2 separate regions of the Homo sapiens genome follow, and region 2 is linked to region 1. Evidence: fine-mapped expression QTL. A gene starts in region 1. The other region holds a variant in brackets. All regions are shown on one strand. Distances are between the middles of the regions.

Region 1 (2,892 bases):
GAGGGGGCCGGGAGAGGGCGCGGGGCGCGGGCCGGCCGGGGTGGGGGCGCCGTCCCCGCCCGCGCCGAGGTCCGCGGCGGGTCAGCTTTGTTTACGTCGCCGCGCAATGTGCTGTGTAAGCATTTCCCCTTGTCCCGCGGCCAAGCCCCCCGGGGCCGCCGCCGCGCTTAACCCCCTCCACGCCGTGCTCACGGCGCCCGGCCGCGCCCGGGGAGGGGCTCCCGCGGCCGGGGGCGAAAACTGCGCTCCCGGGGGGTCGCGGCCGGGATTCAGCCTCCCACCCCGCCCGCGCGAAGCCGCTGGAGGGCACAACAACGGGGCGGGGAGGGGGGTAAGGGCGCAGCCGCGCCCTGAGCGCTGCGGGCCCTTTAATGCCACGGGAGGAGGCGGGAACCCAGCGAGGCCCCCGAGGGCTGGGGGGACCGGCCGGCCGGACAAAGCGGGGCCGGGCCGGGCCGGGGCGGGGCCGTGCGGGGCTCACCGGAGATCAGAGGCCCGGACAGCTTCTTGATCGCCGCGCCGTTGGCGCTGGCGGCCGCGGTGCCGGCCGCGGGACGTCCCGAAATCCCCGAGTGCAGCTGGTCAGCGAGAGGCTCCTGGCCGCGCTGCCCCTGGTTCGCGCCCTGCTCGGCGCTCTCTTGAGGCGCCGCGTCCGGGGCCGGGGCCGGGGCGGGGGCCGGGGCCGGGGCCGGGGCCGGGGCTGGGGCCGGGGCCGCGACTGGAGCCGGGGCCGGAGCCGGAGCCGGAGCCGGGGCCGGGGCCGGGGCCAGGACCGCGACCGCGACCGGAGCCGCGACCGGAGCCGCGACCGGAGCCGGAGCCGGGGCCGGGGCTGGAGCCAGGACCGGGACTGGGGGCGGGGTGGACGCCGGGGCCGGGACCGGGACACTAGGCAGCTGCTCCGGCGCCTCCTCGAGGCCGTCGAGGGACTCAGCGGCCGGCTCGAGGGGCGGGCTGACAGCCACCGCGACCGCGACGGGCCGCGGCGCCAGCAGCAGGCGGCAGCGCCCCACCTGCACCGTCTCGCGGTAGAACGCGGGCACCGAGTCGCTGTCCACTTCGGTCCACTGCAGGCGTCCAGGGCCCCGCAGCGGCATGTCCTGCTGGAAGTCGTAATCCCAGCGGTTCTGGTCCTCGGCGTTCAGCTCGGCCAGGCGGGCCTGCAGCTCGCGGCTCAGCTCCTCGTGGTCCACCGGCCCGAAGAGGCTGCGGCAGGCGCTGGTGCGCACTAGTACTGGGAAGGTCCCACGGGCGACAAGACGCTCCATCGTGGATGTGCTGCGGAGGGACGCGTCGGACATGGCCCGGGGCTGCGCAAACGCGGGCAGCGAGAGAGGAGAGGACAGCGAGAAGAAGGGGAAAGGAGAGGAGGAGAGGGCGGAGGCCGGGCGCAAGGGAGACCCCGCGCCGCCCGACTCTGCGTGTGCGAGGGACGCGGCGGCTACCTGGCTGTCCGGTGGTGGACTCTTCTGCGTCGGGTTCGCCTGTCTCGTCCGGACGGCAGCCGCGCCCCCTCGATGCCTGCTGGCTAGCTCGCTCGCTCAGGCCTGGCCGGCACCCCTCGAGCACAGCGCACTTGGCCTGTGGAACGCCCAGCCCGCCTGCGCCCCCTTTATACGCGCGGGCCCCACCCCCGTGCGCGCGGGCCCGGCCGCGATTAGCATAATGTAGTATTTTCAGTTTCAACAACACCACGGCGATTGGCGGCCGCCCCGCTGCCCCGCCCCGCCGCGGCCCGGCCCCCGCGCACCGCCCATTGGCCGCGCGCACACCCACCGGGGGCGGGGCGGGGCGCGCGGCCGGGGCGCGCGGCTGATTGGCGGCCGCGGGGCGAGCGCGCTGTAGCAGGGGAAGGGGGCGGTGAGCGGGGCGGGGGCGGGAGTTAAAGGGCGCTGCGGGCGGTAACGTGACACCGCGACGCCCGCCCCCTCGCCCCATCCCCCCTGCAACACTCCCCCACCCCCCCGGCTCCCGCCCCCCGCCGGCTCCTTTGTCTGCAGGCGGGGGCCTCAGCCCAGCGCGGCAGGGGCCGGCTCCTGGCGGGTCCGGTGTCCGGCCAGGCCCAACTCGACCCCGGCCCGGTCCGGACCCCGGCGCCCAGCTCCGTCCCGCGCTCGCCCGTGGGCCTCCTGCGCCAGCTGACGAGGCTTGGACCCGCCGCTGCCAGCTCGGCCCTGGCCTGCGCCGGATGGGGTCTTCGGCTGCCCCCGCGCGGCCTGCTGCTGCTGGGCTGGTGTCCCTTCGAGGGCTCCGCGCGCCTGGAGCCCTCACACACCTGCTGGCCCTAAGGCCCTCGAGTCGGGAGGGGGGACAGGGGTCAGCTCCACTCTTTCCCCGAGGGACCATGTGTGGGACACCTTGAGAGACTCCCACCAGCCCCCTGGAGCTGGAGTCTGAAGCCGCTATCTGCGGAGGCCCACCCTGCCCAGTAGATGGAACAGGGGCTGAGCCCATCATGTCACTGTCGGGGGTCCCAGCCCTTCTCAGCCTTGGGCCAGACCACTCCAGCCCCGGGATCTGCCTGTCCAGGCTGGCTGGAAGCTGTTGTACTGGGTAAAAGTGAAAGATCTGCCCGAGGTCATAGGGGAAGGGGCTGTGAAGGACCATGCCCCTCCCCCGCCTGCAGCCCTTCCTGGTACAGACCTCGGTCGTGCGCGCACGCACACACACACACACACACACACGCACGCACACACACGGTGCTTCACCCCAGCCAGGCCAGACCAAAAGAGACCATTATTTCCTGCTGCCTCCCTTTTGGCCCACCTACCATGAGGCAGGGAGCCCCCTCCTCAAACCAGGAGCCTCCCAGATCGGGATGGGGACTGTCAGACACCTGTTGGAGGGTCCAGCAGCCCATGAGATCTAAGCCCCTATCTCAGGTGAGCCTGT
Region 2 (2,892 bases), 51 kb before region 1:
GCCCCAGGTGACAACTGTAGGGTGTGGGGAAGGTGGCTGCCACCGCCGTGGTCCACAGGGCCTGGCCAGGGCTCCATGGGGCAGAAGCCATGCCCAGCTCAGGGGGCTTCACTCCACTCTCCCACTTTGACCTGGTCCCTCCCCTCTCCCCCAGAGTGACCTGGACACTAGCCTCCTCCCAGTGGGAGACAGATGTGGGCAATGCAGCTGCTGTTCCCTGCTCAGGGCAGGCTGGTGCCCAAGGACTGCCCACCAGACCAGGGGATAAGAGGTTGGCAGCATCGTCCATGGTTATCCCACAGCTAGGAGGCTGTGGGTGTGGGAGAACATGCTGGGTAGGGGTGCCTGTGTGCCTCTGGAGTCGAGGCAATTAGAGGCCCTGTGGAAGCCCCTGCACGCAAGGGGCCCACGCGCCAGGGCAGAGGACATAGCCCCTTCTTGCTTCCCTGAGGGACGGGAGGCCTGTGGACTTCTGGACACAATGGCAGAGTCAGGGCAGCCAAGCCGGGCCAGTGCCCTGGAGCCGAGTCCTCCCCCCACCTGCCCACATGCCCCACCCCTCTCCAAGCTTCTCCCCTCATAGGATCCCAGAGCCCCTTGGGACCTCTGTGAAGACTGCATAGATGTGAGGGAGTCTCAGCCTTAGGGTGGGCACCTGGGCGCAGCTGTCAGGCCCCAAGTCAGCCCCAGGCACGTGGACCTGGGAGCCAGCCTCAAGGGCAGGGGTCCCCGAGCATCCCCACTGCTGCCCCGCCAGCAACCGTGTCACTGGGAGGCAAGAGGCTGGGTTCCTGGGGTGGGCAGGCTTCCCCGCTTCACTCCATTTGCAGCCCCTGTCTTGCAGAGGCAAAATGGAGGTTCAGAGAGGTGAGCAAACACCAGGTCCCATGTTTGCACCTGGCTGTGACCGTGCAGTCCACTGGGCCCAGCAGCAGGAACTGGGGCAAGTGCCCCGAGACGGGACCGAGACAACAGTGGGGAAGGTGGGACAGGCAGCTGGGGGAAGGCCAGAGTGTCCAGCACCAGCGCCAGGGGCCGTTCCGACAGGCTGAGGAGCGGCGGGGAGCGGGGCTTGCCAAATATGTCCAGATGGGGCTGGAGCCCCAGCAACTTCCTGCCCTCCCAGCCTGCTCCCCCACCTCCTCACCCCCTTCCCAGGCTGTCAGCAGGGGCTGGGGGGCAGCAGAACCCCACTTAGCCACAAGGAGTGCAGCCAGGGGCTGGCTCCCGGGAGGACATGGGCAGAGGCTTAGGTCCCCTTACACACACACACTGCTGCATTCGTGCAGGATGGGCTCAGC[G/A]CCTGCTGTGCCTGGCGTGGCTGTGTGCATGGCATGGTGGTGGCATGGTGGGAGTGGTGTGGCACATGGTGTGGCACATGGCATGGCTGGGGCTGGGGCTGGGTTGTGTAGCATGTGGAGTGGCAAGGTGCGTGACATGGTGTATGGCATGGTAGTGTGCCCCTCGAGCCATGTGTCCAGGTGGGGCAGATCATGGAGGGCGCCCAGGTGCGGTGCTGAGGCTGAGCATGCACTGGCTGGGGAGGGTGGGCAGAGCAGGAGGAAATCCCTTGTTCTCCGGAGCTGGAGAGCCAGAAAGAGCCCTGCAGCCTGGGCCTCATCATCACACCTCGCCCTCAAGGCCTCCAGGCACAGCATCCACTGCCAGCCTCTGCTCCTGCCTCTGAGGGTCTGTCTCCAAGGTCTTTTGGGGGCTGCCCCAGCTCCCCCAACACAGACAGCACCAGAGCTGGGCCCACCTGTGAGGTGCTGAGTTCCCCATCTCAGAGACTGTGCGAGCAGAGGCAGGGAGGCGCTTGATGTCGGATGGAGAAAGGACAGGGGAGGGGTGTGGGGCTCAGGGCCCCGCCAGGTGAAGGAACAAGCTTGGAAGGGTGTCCTTATGTCTGAGAGTTGGGGAGACACCCCCAAGCCCCAGATGGGCCTCGAATGCCAGGCAGGGCCAAGCTGGGCCCAGAAGTGGGAAGGATCCCTTGGCTGCCCCAGGAATGCAGGTTCCGGGGCAAGAATCCAGCCCTGGCTGGTTGAAGTCCATCCCAAGTCTCCCTCCCCACGAGGCTCCTGCAGATGCCAGGAATGGGGCTGGATTCCAGATTCCAAGCCTGGCCGCCCAGCCCCTATCTGGGACCCCAGCCCAGGGCCCCCAGGCCTGGCCTCCAACCTGGCCCCAGCCTCAGGGGAGCTGAATTCAGAGAATCCTGTCCTAGGAGCCAGAAGCGGGGGAGGGAGGGAGGGCGGCCCTGTCCTGGGTGCAGGCCCGGGGGCTGGGGGCTGCCCGCCCGTCTGGGTCAGCCGCAGCTGCAAACCGGCCCTGGCTGAGTCATGGGGCCTCCATCTCCAGGCCTGGCTTGAGGTGGGAATAGCAGTGAGGTTGGACATCCAGGCACCTGGAGGGTGGGCAGGGCTCCCTGCGGCTGGGGTGGCCAGTGGCACCTGGCTGTTGCCCCCCTGCACCCCAGCCCTTTGGCCCCCAAGTCTCTGCCACCTCCCTGGGGTTCTGCTCCCATATTCCTCACACCCAGCACAGAACCCAGCATGTCTCCTGTAGACACCTGCATATAAACCCTGACTCACACACACACACACACACACACACACACACGCACACATGCAGGCCAGGCTCCTCGGCCAGTCACCCTACCGGCAGAGCTCTAGACATTTCTGGCCTCTGGTGACTATTCTTCAGGCAGCTCACCCTGCAAGTCTTTATTGAGCACCTACTGTGTGCCAGGCAGTGGTACAGCAAGGGCAGAAGCCCCACCTCCAAGGAGCTGACCCCCTGCCGTGGCAGAGACAGAAAACAAAGGCAGCACCACAGCGACGAGGGCCTGAGAGGAAAGTGGAGCAGGAGCCTGCAGCATGCTGGGGCAGG

The links. PIP is the estimated chance that this variant, and not a neighbour inherited with it, causes the effect. A credible set is the group of variants that fine-mapping cannot tell apart.
Region 2: its variant is the best candidate, but not a certain one, in a credible set for the expression of CDKN1C in whole blood (TOPMed, PIP 0.61).

Annotation. Positions count from the first base shown.
Region 1 is chr11:2,884,189-2,887,080 of GRCh38, forward strand. It overlaps CDKN1C (cyclin dependent kinase inhibitor 1C), which reads right to left and starts at 1,587. Exons shown (of 4, transcript NM_001122630.2): 1 at 1,446-1,587; 2 at 482-1,278. The coding sequence starts at 1,268. RefSeq lists enhancers at 577-1,412, 1,413-2,248, 2,249-2,892.
Region 2 is chr11:2,832,807-2,835,698 of GRCh38, forward strand. All of the region lies in intron 15 of KCNQ1 (potassium voltage-gated channel subfamily Q member 1), which reads left to right. Among named protein-coding and RNA genes, the nearest start is that of KCNQ1-AS1, 27 kb to the right of the region's middle. RefSeq lists an enhancer at 2,163-2,892. The variant G/A (reference allele first, on the strand shown) is at 1,302.